2 separate regions of the Homo sapiens genome follow, and region 1 is linked to region 2. The links come from fine-mapping of genetic effects on gene expression. Tissue or cell type: whole blood. Region 2 holds a variant in brackets; the other region holds the start of a gene. All regions are shown on one strand. Distances are from middle to middle.

Region 1 (5,376 bases), 83 kb after region 2:
CCACCCACCTCAGCCTCTGAAAGTGCTGGGATTACAGGCGTGAGCCACCGTGCCCGGCCAAGTTTTGTCTACATTTCTACATGCACTTTTCTGGAGAGAGGTTCTATAGCTCTCAACAGATTCTCAAAGAGTCAAAATTCACTTGCCCCACCCCCACCCCTGTGATTGAACCATTTTAATCAGGATAATTTTTACCTACAAACAACAAAAGTTGTTACCAAAAAGTAAGGTTGTATGGATCCAGTCAGGCTTGCATTTATTTATTTATTTATTTATTTATTTGAGACAGAGTATAGTTCTTTCGCCCCGACTGGAGTGCAGTGGCACAATGATCTCTGCTCACTGCAATCTCAGCCTCCCGGGTTCAAGCAATTATCCTGTCTCAGCCTCCCAAGTAGCTGGGACTACAGGCATGTGCCACCATGCCCGTCTAATATTTGTATTTTTAGTAGAGAGGGGTTTTGCCATGTTGGCCAGGCTGGTCTCGAACTCCTGACCTCAGGTGATCCGCCCACCTCGGCCTCCCAAAGTGCTAGGATTATAGGTGTGAGCCACCGTGCCCAGTCAAGCCAGGCTTTTAATTTCATTCTGTATTCTTTAAATTCTACATTAACAAAATACAATGCTTCATAGTTTGCTAAAACAATGTGTTTTTACAAGACAAACTTTCTACAGTTCCACTTCTTTTTTTTTTTTTTTTTGAGACGGAGTCTCGCGCTGTTGCCCAGGCTGGAGTGCAGTGGCGGGATCTTGGCTCACTGCAAGCTCCGCCTCCCGGGTTCACGCCATTCTCCTGCCTCAGTCTCCCGAGTAGCTGGGACTACAAGCGCCTCCCAGGTTCACGCCATTCTCCTGCCTTAGCCTCCCGAGTAGCTGGGACTGCAGGCGCCTGCCACCACGCCTGGCTAATTTTTTTTTTATTTTTAGTAGAGATAGGGTTTCACCGTGCTAGCCAGGATGGTCTCGATCTCCTCACCTCGTGATCTGCCTGCCTCGGCCTCCCAAAGTGCTAGGATTACAGGCGTGAGCCACCGCGCCCCGCCTACAGTTCCACTTCTTAGAAGACTGTATGGTATGAAAATAATGTACAAGAGTTTGGGTCATAACAATTTACTTTTCTATGTCTCTAATTTTGTTTATATGTTTTGAGAAAGGGTCTTGCTCTGTTCCTCAGGCTGGAATGCAATGAGTAATCACGGCTCACTGCAGTCTCAACCTCCTAGGCTCAAGTGATCCTCCAGCCTCAGCCTCCCCAGAAGCTGCAGGCGTTTGCCACCACACCTGGTTAATTTTTAATTTTTTGTAGAGACAGGTTTGGGGAGGGGGTCCTTAGCACGTTGACTAGGCTGGTCTCGAACTCCTGGGCTCAAACAATCCTCCTGCATAGGCCTCCCAGTGTTGGGATTACAGGCATGAGCCACAGCACCTGGACAATTTCCCAGATATAGTAAACTGCTGAACCACCTTAGGGTGCGTTTCAGCCTTAGAGGTCTTTTCTCTGCTAGTTACAAAGCAAGATCCAGAGTATCATTCTAGGTTTATCAAAAATCTCTCTTCCCTAGACAATGGCTGGATAGAGGAAGAAAAAGCAGGCCCTTTGATTAGAGACACACCTTAATGCTGGCTTTACATTCTCAGTCACGTGTTTTAAGCAAGATTTGAAATTCCTTCTCTAGAGTCTCGCTCCAGAGAGCGCCCTAAACCGAAATGGGAAACTGAGGCTAAGGTTCCAAGTACCTTCAAACCGCCGGTACAGTACAAGGGCACAGAAGAGCGGAGACCGCGGACAAGGAAAGCCAGCATAAAAGCTGGAGGGGAGAAAGAAGAAAGGCGATCGGGCTGCCCTGAGTGAGGAATTCAGGGAAGCCAGCAGGGATTTAAGAGCAGCCTCCCGAGTCCGTGGGGGCAACGCCACAGTTCAGCCCCTTCCCCTCCCTCAGCTCGAGTCTTCCCGCCCCGTGCCGGTCAGCCCGAAGACCCCAGCGCCGCCCAGACCCGCCTTCCCCACAGACCCCGCCACCTGTCAGTGAAAGGCCGCAGCCAGGGGCAAAGAGGTGGTCCAGTGGCTCAGAGGTCCCCAATGGGCCAAAGTTGCCCTAAAACCCGGGGAGTGGCCTCGGCCTCCGCCCCCCGGCCCGGCCTTGCCAAGCTTTACCTTGAGTGCCAGGTGATGGACGCGGCCCAGGCCAGGCTCGGCCAGCAACTGCAGCAAACCCAGCATTGGGAGCAGCCGGAGGCCCGCGGCCAGCCTAGGACCGCGGGAGGCGGGGGAGCCGACGGGCGCCAGAGCGGCCATGTTTGTTCCAGCATCACCAGCCGCTTCCTCTCCCGCCCACGTCCGGGGTGAAAGGGCGCAGCCGCCGGAAGGGCCCGGGGAGCGGGGCTCGGCGGCTAGCTCCGCTGACCCTGTGGTCGTTTTCCTGGAGATTGCGACCTAGGAAGTCGTCGAGGAGCCTGTGCTGCCCACCTCGGGGCCCTTCGATCGGCCGCTCCTGTGCAGACTTTCAGTTAGAGATGAAGCCAACCTATTGGCGGTTGCCATAACAACGGTGGCCGAACCAGACCAGCCCGGGCCGCACCTCCGCCTCGCTGAGCTTTGGAAGCGACCTTGGGCTCCGGGGACCCCTGATCTCAGGGTCGGGGGATAAGCTGTGTCAGCCGCACGGTGTCGGGCCACTGATTGAACTGATTTCACTGAGCGTTGACTCGGAGGAAAATATCTAAAAATTCCCGGCTCGCCGTAGGGGTCCTGTGGTTTTCTAGGCGCTTCACACTCAAATACAAGCGAAATGGTTGCAATAATACGATTGATTGAGCCCTTATGAGGCAATTTGTTAGGCCTTTTGTTGTATTTAATTTTTGGAACAATTTGATGAGCTAGGAGGTACGTATTATCATTATTCCTACTTTACAGGTAAGCAAACTGAGGCTCTGAGAAATAAGTCATTTGCTCCAGGTTGAGCTGGGAATCACACGGAAGCTCTTAACTCCTGTGTTCTGTTGCCTCATGCTATTTCATCCAACCCCAAGTCTGGGTCTTAACATTTTTCTCTTAATTCTGTATGGAAACTTTCTTTGCTTCTTTCAGAAATTATAGGAACTTCTTTTTTTTGAGACGGAGTCTAGCTCTTGTCACCCAGGCTGGAGTGCAATGGCACGATCTCAGCTCACTGCAACCTCCGCCTTCTGGGTTCAAGCGATTCTCCTGCCTCAGCCTCTGGAGTAACTAGAATTACAGGCCTGCGCCACCACGCCCGGCTAATTTTTGTATTTTTAGTAGACACGGGGTTTCTCCCATGTTGGCCAGGCTGGTCTCGAACTCCTGACCTCAAGTTATCCTCCCGCCTCGGCCTCCCAAAGTGCTGGGATTACAGGCGTGAGTCACTGCGCCCAACCTGCTTTGGAGTACTTTTTATCTTTTAAAGTTAAGTGGCATCTTTGAAAATCTCTGGTTTTAAATTTGAATATAATACTGTACTAAAAACGAAATGAGGCCTGGCAGGGTGGTGATTCGCGCCTGAATCCCAGCACTTTGGAACGCCGAGGCGGGCGGATCACTTGAAAGTCAGTTGTTCGGGACCAGCCTGGGCAACATGGCAAAACCTCGTCTCTACTAAAAATACAAAAATTAGCGGGGCATCACGGCCGCGCGCCTGTAGTCCCAGCTACTGGGGAGGCTGAGGCAGGAGAAGCACTTGAACCTGGGAGGCAGAGGTTTCAGTAAGCCAAGATCATGCCACTGCACTCCAGCCTGGGTGACAGAGTGAGACTCTGTCTCAATAAAAAAAAAATCAGGTAAGAATCTTAATCCCATTTTATAATACAATAGTGATGAAACATTAAAATAGTTTTAAATAGGAGACTTTTGTCTTAGTTTCTGGACAACAGTTTTATAAGGGCTTAAAACTGGGTTCATAGCATTCCTTGCTTCTCTATACTTGGGTATTATCATGTGACCTACATAGGGTCATACCAGTGCTGTCTGTCCAGGGGTTTAAGAGGATATCTTCTTCTTTCACATATTTGAAAGCTGTATTGTGCCAGTCATTATTTTGGAATTGAGAGGAATAAGAATGAGGGAAAACTGACTACAAAGACATTGTTGAGCATTTTCTCTACAGTTACTTCTTAAATTCTAGAAAACTGCTGCCTTGACAATTACATTTAGCCATGTGATTTCATAGTTTCAAGAAAAGATTATTTGCATAATCATGATGCTGTAACTGGAAACAAACAGGCTGAGTAACAGAACAAGTTATGCCTGCTTCTCCTGGCAACATTTTCAAAGGGACATTACACTTTAAGGTATTGACTGAAAAAGCCTGCAGGGGCTGGAAAGACTGATCTCCTAAGCTTGGCTTTTAGCCTTACTCTCTTAGTCAAGTACATTTTATTTTTCTATTTTCTCTCCTTTTTTTTTTGAGACAGAGACACTGTTGCCCAGGACTGAGTGCAGTGGTGTGACATCTGTTCACTGTAGTCTCCACCTCCCAGGTTCAAGGGATTCTCATGCCTCAGCCTCCCTAGCTGGGACCACAGGTGTGCGCCAGTATGCTCAGCTAATTTTTGTATTTTTGCTAGAGATGGGGTTTCACCATGTTGGCCAGGCTGGTCTTGAACTCCTGGCCTCAAGTGATCTGCTCACCTCGGCTTACCAAATTGCTGGATTACAGGCGTAAGCCACCCTGCCTGGACTATTTTCTCTAACTTTTCAGGATCAGCTTAAGGTTGCTACTAGAATGTGTAGTGTTGAATCTAGTGCTATTATTATTAAATAATTATTTGATATCGGTTTGGACATTTTCAGAACTCTTTTAAGTAATTAATGTGTTAATAGTCTCCAGTTTAAGAAAGTATAATTGCCATTTGTTTTTCTTATCAAAAGACTTGATAGGCCTGGCTGGTGTCTCATGCCTGTAATCCCAGCACTTTGGGAGGCCAAGGCTGGTGGATAACTTGAGCCCAGGAGTTTGCCACCAGCCTGGGCAACATGGTGAAACACCTTCTCTACAAAAAATACAAAAATTAGGCCAGGGGCGGTGGCTCAGGCCTGTAATCTCAGCACTTTGGGAGGCTGAGGTCAGTGGATCACCTGAGGCCAGGAGTCTGAGACCAGCCTAGCTAACATGGCAAAACCCCATCTCTACTAAAAATACAAAAATTAGCCAGGCATGGTGGCGCATGCCTGTAATCCCAGCTACTCAGGAGGCTGAGACAGGAGAATCGCTTGAACTTGGGAAGCGGAGGTTACAGTGAGCCCAGATTGTACCATTGCACTCCAGCCTGTGTGACAGAGCGAGATTCTGTCTCAAAAAAAAAAAAAATTAGCGAGCATGATTGCACCAATTCACTCCAGCCTGTGCGACAGAGCAAGAC
Region 2 (5,376 bases):
CCTCAGCAGACTATCTAATGTTCTAAGAGCCTTCCTCAAAGAAAATGTTTCAGGACGGGGGAGAAGGCCAGAATGCATCTGCAATTCCAACAGGCATCGCTATGCTCTTCCTTGGTCTGTAAGGACTGGATGCCTGGAGTAGACTGTTTTAAGTACCAAAACAAGACACCCATTTTAGTGTGGAGGAAGACCAGCCTATATGGCCCAGAGCAATAATATTTGGCATGAGTATGCCACTCTTGAGAAAATTCTCCTTAGCTTAGAAAATGCATCTTTCACACAGCTGCTGGGAGAAAACGCTGCAATGCACCAAAGCCTTTAGCCGGTGTACCCAGAATGAGCCTATGTGGGATCAATAGGCACGGGGAGAAAGATGGCAGAGAAGGGAAGAGGAGGGAGGAGGAGGGAAGGAGGAGGAGAAAGAGGTGGAGGAGGGAGGAGGAGCGGAAGGGGAAGGGGGAGGGGTAAGGGCGAGGGCAGAGGAGGAGGGGGAGGGGATGGGGAAGGGGGAAGGGCGAGGGCAGAGGAGGAGAGAAGAGGGAGGGAGGCTGTGGAATGAGACAGCAGAGATGGCGATGAGGTCATCACGCAGGAGGAAATCTCACCCACACGAGGTGGACTTACAGGGCTGTGTGCTGCCTGGGCAGGCTGGACATGTCCAGGGCGGGGAAACCCTGGATATTTCACTCTGAAGTGGTTTCTTGAAAGAAAACTCAACTGACTCAGGCCATGAGCATCTTTTACACTGAAGCAAGCATCTCCTCACAAGTGCCTCCTACAAGTCACTAGAGTCATATTCAACATTACAAAATGCAGTGCTACTTAAATTTTAAAGCACTGAGGGACCAAGAAATGGGCTGATCAAGTCCTTGGCCACTCACTGTTAAGAGCCAGGATTTACAGATCAATGACTGTTCCTATTGTCCAAGAAATAATTTTCTAGCAAAGCATACACACTTTATTAAATTTCACAGCCAGCAGCGCTTTCAGTCCACAACAGATTTCTCAGAGGAAACATGGATATTTTGCGTAGGCAGAAACAGTGAGGAGTACAAAGCAAAGCTATAAATACCACCAATGGTTCTGCTATGTGCATCCGATATTTTTTGCCCGATCTGAAATACTGCAAGGGCTTAACCATTCAAACACCGCATGACAACGAACCCAGTGGACTGTGAAACTCAGGCTGCAGGAGGGTGGCTTGTCAGCTGGTGAAGCCACTTGGCTTTGGACTCCATCGGTCATCTTTACGCAAGAGCAGAGATGAACGGTGGGTCACGGCTATGACGTGAAGGAGAAAGAGAAGACACACTCACAGAACAGGATGGAGAGCTTCAATAATTTTTTAAAAGCTTGGAACCACCACCTGCTTTCCCAATCTTGGGCTGGGGTTTTGACTTTTCTTGATCATCAATCTGACTTGAAGCCTTTTACCAGTTACAATACAGACATGGCCAGATGACCTGCTTGTTAGGAAGGCTGTGGCCATCTTTGTTTCTGAAACAGTCTTATCTCATCTGTCCACTGCTGCTCTGGAAGGGTCAGGACCAGCACTGCAGACACTCGGCCATGCTGTGAGTGAGCCCAGACATACGCGTGGAATCTGAACACCCAACGCTGGCGTTCCCGTGCCAGTCTGAGGGCTGCGGCTCCAGCGCTTGTCCACACACACGCCTGCCTCTCTCTAGTTCCTCCACTGCCTGGCTTCCTCGCTTGCAAAACCCAGCATGTGAAATGAGGACACCTCCACGGAGACCCTTCCGAGCAGGGAGGTTTCATCACACCTTTCGTTCTTGCCAAGGAGTCTATCGCCTCATCCACAACATCTGCTTGCGGGAGAAACAGCAAATGTGTCCCTCTGAGGGAAGGACTGAGGAGGGCTTTGGTAGTCACAGATTGAGACACATTTCTGCGAAAACTGGTATTATGTTTCTGCACAGGAAAACAAAGTGTTAAAAATATTCCCATCCTCCCTCCAACTCCCTTCTGTCACACAGTCCCAAGTGAACTTGAAAAAGGTCCAGAAGTGAACACTTAGGGTGCATTTACCTTTCTCCTGAAGATGGGAAGACACACGGATGCTTGCCTAAAATATCTGCCGAGAGGTGAGCAGCTGTGGCCTGGGAAGGCGCTTGCTCTTCCTCCACATCAGCCAGAAGGCAGATCACACCTTCAGAGCACCCTACAGAACCCAGATGGCGAATCAAAGTGCAGAAAAAGAACACCCGCTTCCTCATTAGTCATTTAGGAAGATAAGATAGCATGGGACAGGGAGAACAACCATGTTCTGAATGGAGACTTTTTCAGGTTCCCAAACTTGGGACAGTGAGTGTGACCCCACATCCTGTGGTTTCTGCCTGACCCTTCTAAGCCAGAGGTGAGAAAACAACTCCCAGAGACCACGACTCTCACCCTCGGAGGTACCTGTTCCCCTGCAGGTGTGGCTCTCTGACAACCCCTAGGCAGGGGTGGGCTCCAGCTTTTGGAAGCAACCCTACCTAGCTGGCCCCCCAAGCATTAAGAAGCTTCCCTGATGGGGCCATGTTTTGGTCTCCTTTTAAGCCCTCAGTCACAATGTACCTTCTGAGCTTGTCCTACTATTCAGATGATTTTCTCTCTGAGTTGCAATACTGCTCAATTTAGGTGGCTACCTGTGTTCATTCAAGCTCTGGAAGTGTGGAAGGGAACTTAATCATTGAGTTTCTGTGAAGTATTTTGCCATCCTAAAATCCCTGAGAGTGAAACTGTTGAATCATGCTCACTTTCTTCACATACATACTCTTGGACTATGGGGACCAAGTCTGTTGAATTCATCTATTTAGAAATCCTACTAGCCTACAGGAAAAGCTTTTTAATGGGGATGATTTGCTTGGACTTAAGTATTTGCTTAAATACTACCTATTCTGCCCCCAGCTGCTCCTTGAGGAAAACTTTCCATTTCCCCCAAAATTCTGATCAAACACAACAAAGCCACAAGCATGAAGGGAAGCCAGACAGTGCTGCTCTGGGCTGTCAGGGAGTGGATGTCCAGGCAA[C/T]GCCACAGGATAATGCTTTTTGAACTTAAAAATACATTTCTTTCCATCCATCAGGCAACATCTCAGTCAGAAAACCACCTCCCACCACCTGTGCTGTGCCACAGGGCATGATCCTGACAGCGACATCACAGCCTTCTTTTCCTGTTGGAAAGAAGACCACTGGGCCTCAGGAGCTGCTGTCCTGGTCACTCTCAGCATCTGGAATAAGGGTCTGGGGCAAAGCCGAGGGCAGGAATCCTGGGGCAGGTGCTACATCCTAAACTGGGTTTTGACTTTGCTTTCCAAAGTCACCTGTTTTCGTTCATTTTTGTCTCCCAAACAGGCAATGGCACTCTCCCCGCCCTTCTTCTTAAGTCCCAGGGTCCTCAGTAGACATTTCCTAAAGCATCAGACAGACACCTCGCACCCTCCTTCCCCCTCCACCAGCCGTCCTTGCTACACTTCCCCACACATGGGGTCACAACTGCATACACCTTAGAGCTCCGAAATGAAGAAGAAAAAAAGAAACCTAAATTAAAAATGAATTCTTCCTTTTCTCTTCCTCTCCTCCTCCCTGTGCCCGCCCTCCCATTCCCGCCTGAAAGAGGATCCAGCTGCCTCTAAACAGCCACAGATCGTTTCCATAAAAGAGAGTACAAAATCAGGTTTCCGCGGCACTGTGCTCCAGCCATGTGCCCTGGTGTCACTGTCGGTGGTGCCAATAGTTCACTGTAGGAGCTGCTCCTGCTGTCCAATAGGACTATGAATAAGTTAACAGTTTCCTTGGACAGTGCCATCCTCAGGGTCGGCTCTGTCACACGGCGCCTTCCCACTCGCCCTGGGGCTCCACGGAGCCGTTGGTCACCTTCTTGACTTTCTTCATACTTTCCATCACCCCAGATGTTGTCACACTGAACAAGGAAAGAAAAAACAATTAGGAACATCTCACAGTCTCTTAGTAAAAGGCCATCTCTGCCACAGCACGGTGATTAGGACTGATGATGGGTGTTGGTTTTTGAAACAGACAAAATCTAAGTGTGATTCCTGGTTCGTTCCTTACTAGCTGTGTAACCTTGGCCAAGTCACTTGAACTCTCTGTGCTTAAGTAATTCTCACTTTCCAGAACTGTCATGAGGAAAAATGAGATTCTCCAGAGTGCCTAATCAATAAACACCAGCTATCGTTATCACAATCATCATGAATCTTTTTGTCACAGCTTGCGGAATTTTTGTGGCGCACAGATATGTGATAGTTACGCTTATGAGACTGAAATCTGACTCTTAATGGACATTCAGAAAAGAAAGCTAATTAGCCAACCAGACATTTTTAATAAGCAGCCACAATGGATCATTTCTGAGCCAGGGGACAGAACCACAGGTTTAGAGGAACCTTCCAGGATCAAAGATTCTTTGGCCACTATAGACAGAGAACTGGCTGCTTTCTGCTAGCTGGGGCTGGGCCATGTGGCTGTGCCTCAGCGCATGGCCTCTGCCTCCACTCTGTGAGCTCCCGGGGCTCTGTCTGTTGGTGCCTGGCTCTGAGGAGGCCCCATGGAGCCATTCGTTGAAATCAAGGATTAAAAATGGAAGATCGCTGGTCTCGCAGGGCATGAGGAGCTGAGCAAGGCAGCCCTTTCCATTAGAAGGAATCACATGCACGGGCCCCACCTTCTCAAGAGGATAATCTCTTGCCTCACAGAAGGTGAGCTGGTCTATGAGGGAACTGGGTGGCTCTGTGAGTAGCAGAACTAGGCAGAGATACTGGGTGTCAAAAGCCGCTTGGCCCAGCATCTTCCCTGCAAGCGAGGAAACAATGAGGATTTATGCTCCCCCATGGTGGACCAAAAGAAATTTCCTCATCAGTAAAATAAATTCAATCAATCAACTCAACAGGCTCTTTCCAAGGACCCAACCCATCCCTCTGCCAACTACCTAACCCCTTCCCCTACAAATGGCAACACAGTGGCCGTATATGTGACCCATCTAGAGTGCATGCAGCTGGACCTCATGGTAAGTAAATGTTTGTATGGGGTAAGGGAAGAAAACTTCCCCCTCTTCTTCATCTCTTCATTCTTGCCATTATGGTGCTACCATGCCCAGGCTCAAAGAATCCCCCAAGCCGGAACCTTTCTCAAACGAGTCCTTTAGACTCACAGGTTATTTGTACTTATGGCAAAGTTGGGACAAGGTATGTGGCCAGATCCCATAGATGCTATAAGTGACTCTAAAAGCATCCCCTAAGACGAAAATGCCTCAGCTGAAGCCGCCCAGCGTCACTTCTGGCCAGCTGGCTTGTGTCTCAGGCCTGGCCTCTTTAGGAAGACACTTGCCCCAGGAGGGATCCATGTGCACAGGGCTGCTCC

The links. PIP is the estimated chance that this variant, and not a neighbour inherited with it, causes the effect.
Region 1: it holds the start of GPR107, and the variant in region 2 is fine-mapped to the expression of GPR107 in whole blood (INTERVAL, PIP 0.97).

The regions. Positions count from the first base shown.
Region 1 is chr9:130,050,853-130,056,228 of GRCh38, reverse strand. GPR107 (G protein-coupled receptor 107) reads right to left here and starts at 2,323. Exons shown (of 18, transcript NM_020960.5): 1 at 2,156-2,323. The coding sequence starts at 2,296. It also overlaps a transcript of FNBP1 not described here. RefSeq lists a silencer at 2,026-2,335.
Region 2 is chr9:130,133,574-130,138,949 of GRCh38, reverse strand. It overlaps GPR107 (G protein-coupled receptor 107), which reads right to left. Exons shown (of 18, transcript NM_020960.5): 18 at 1-3,925. The coding sequence ends at 3,829. Among named protein-coding and RNA genes, the nearest start is that of GPRACR, 8.0 kb to the left of the region's middle. The variant C/T (reference allele first, on the strand shown) is at 3,036.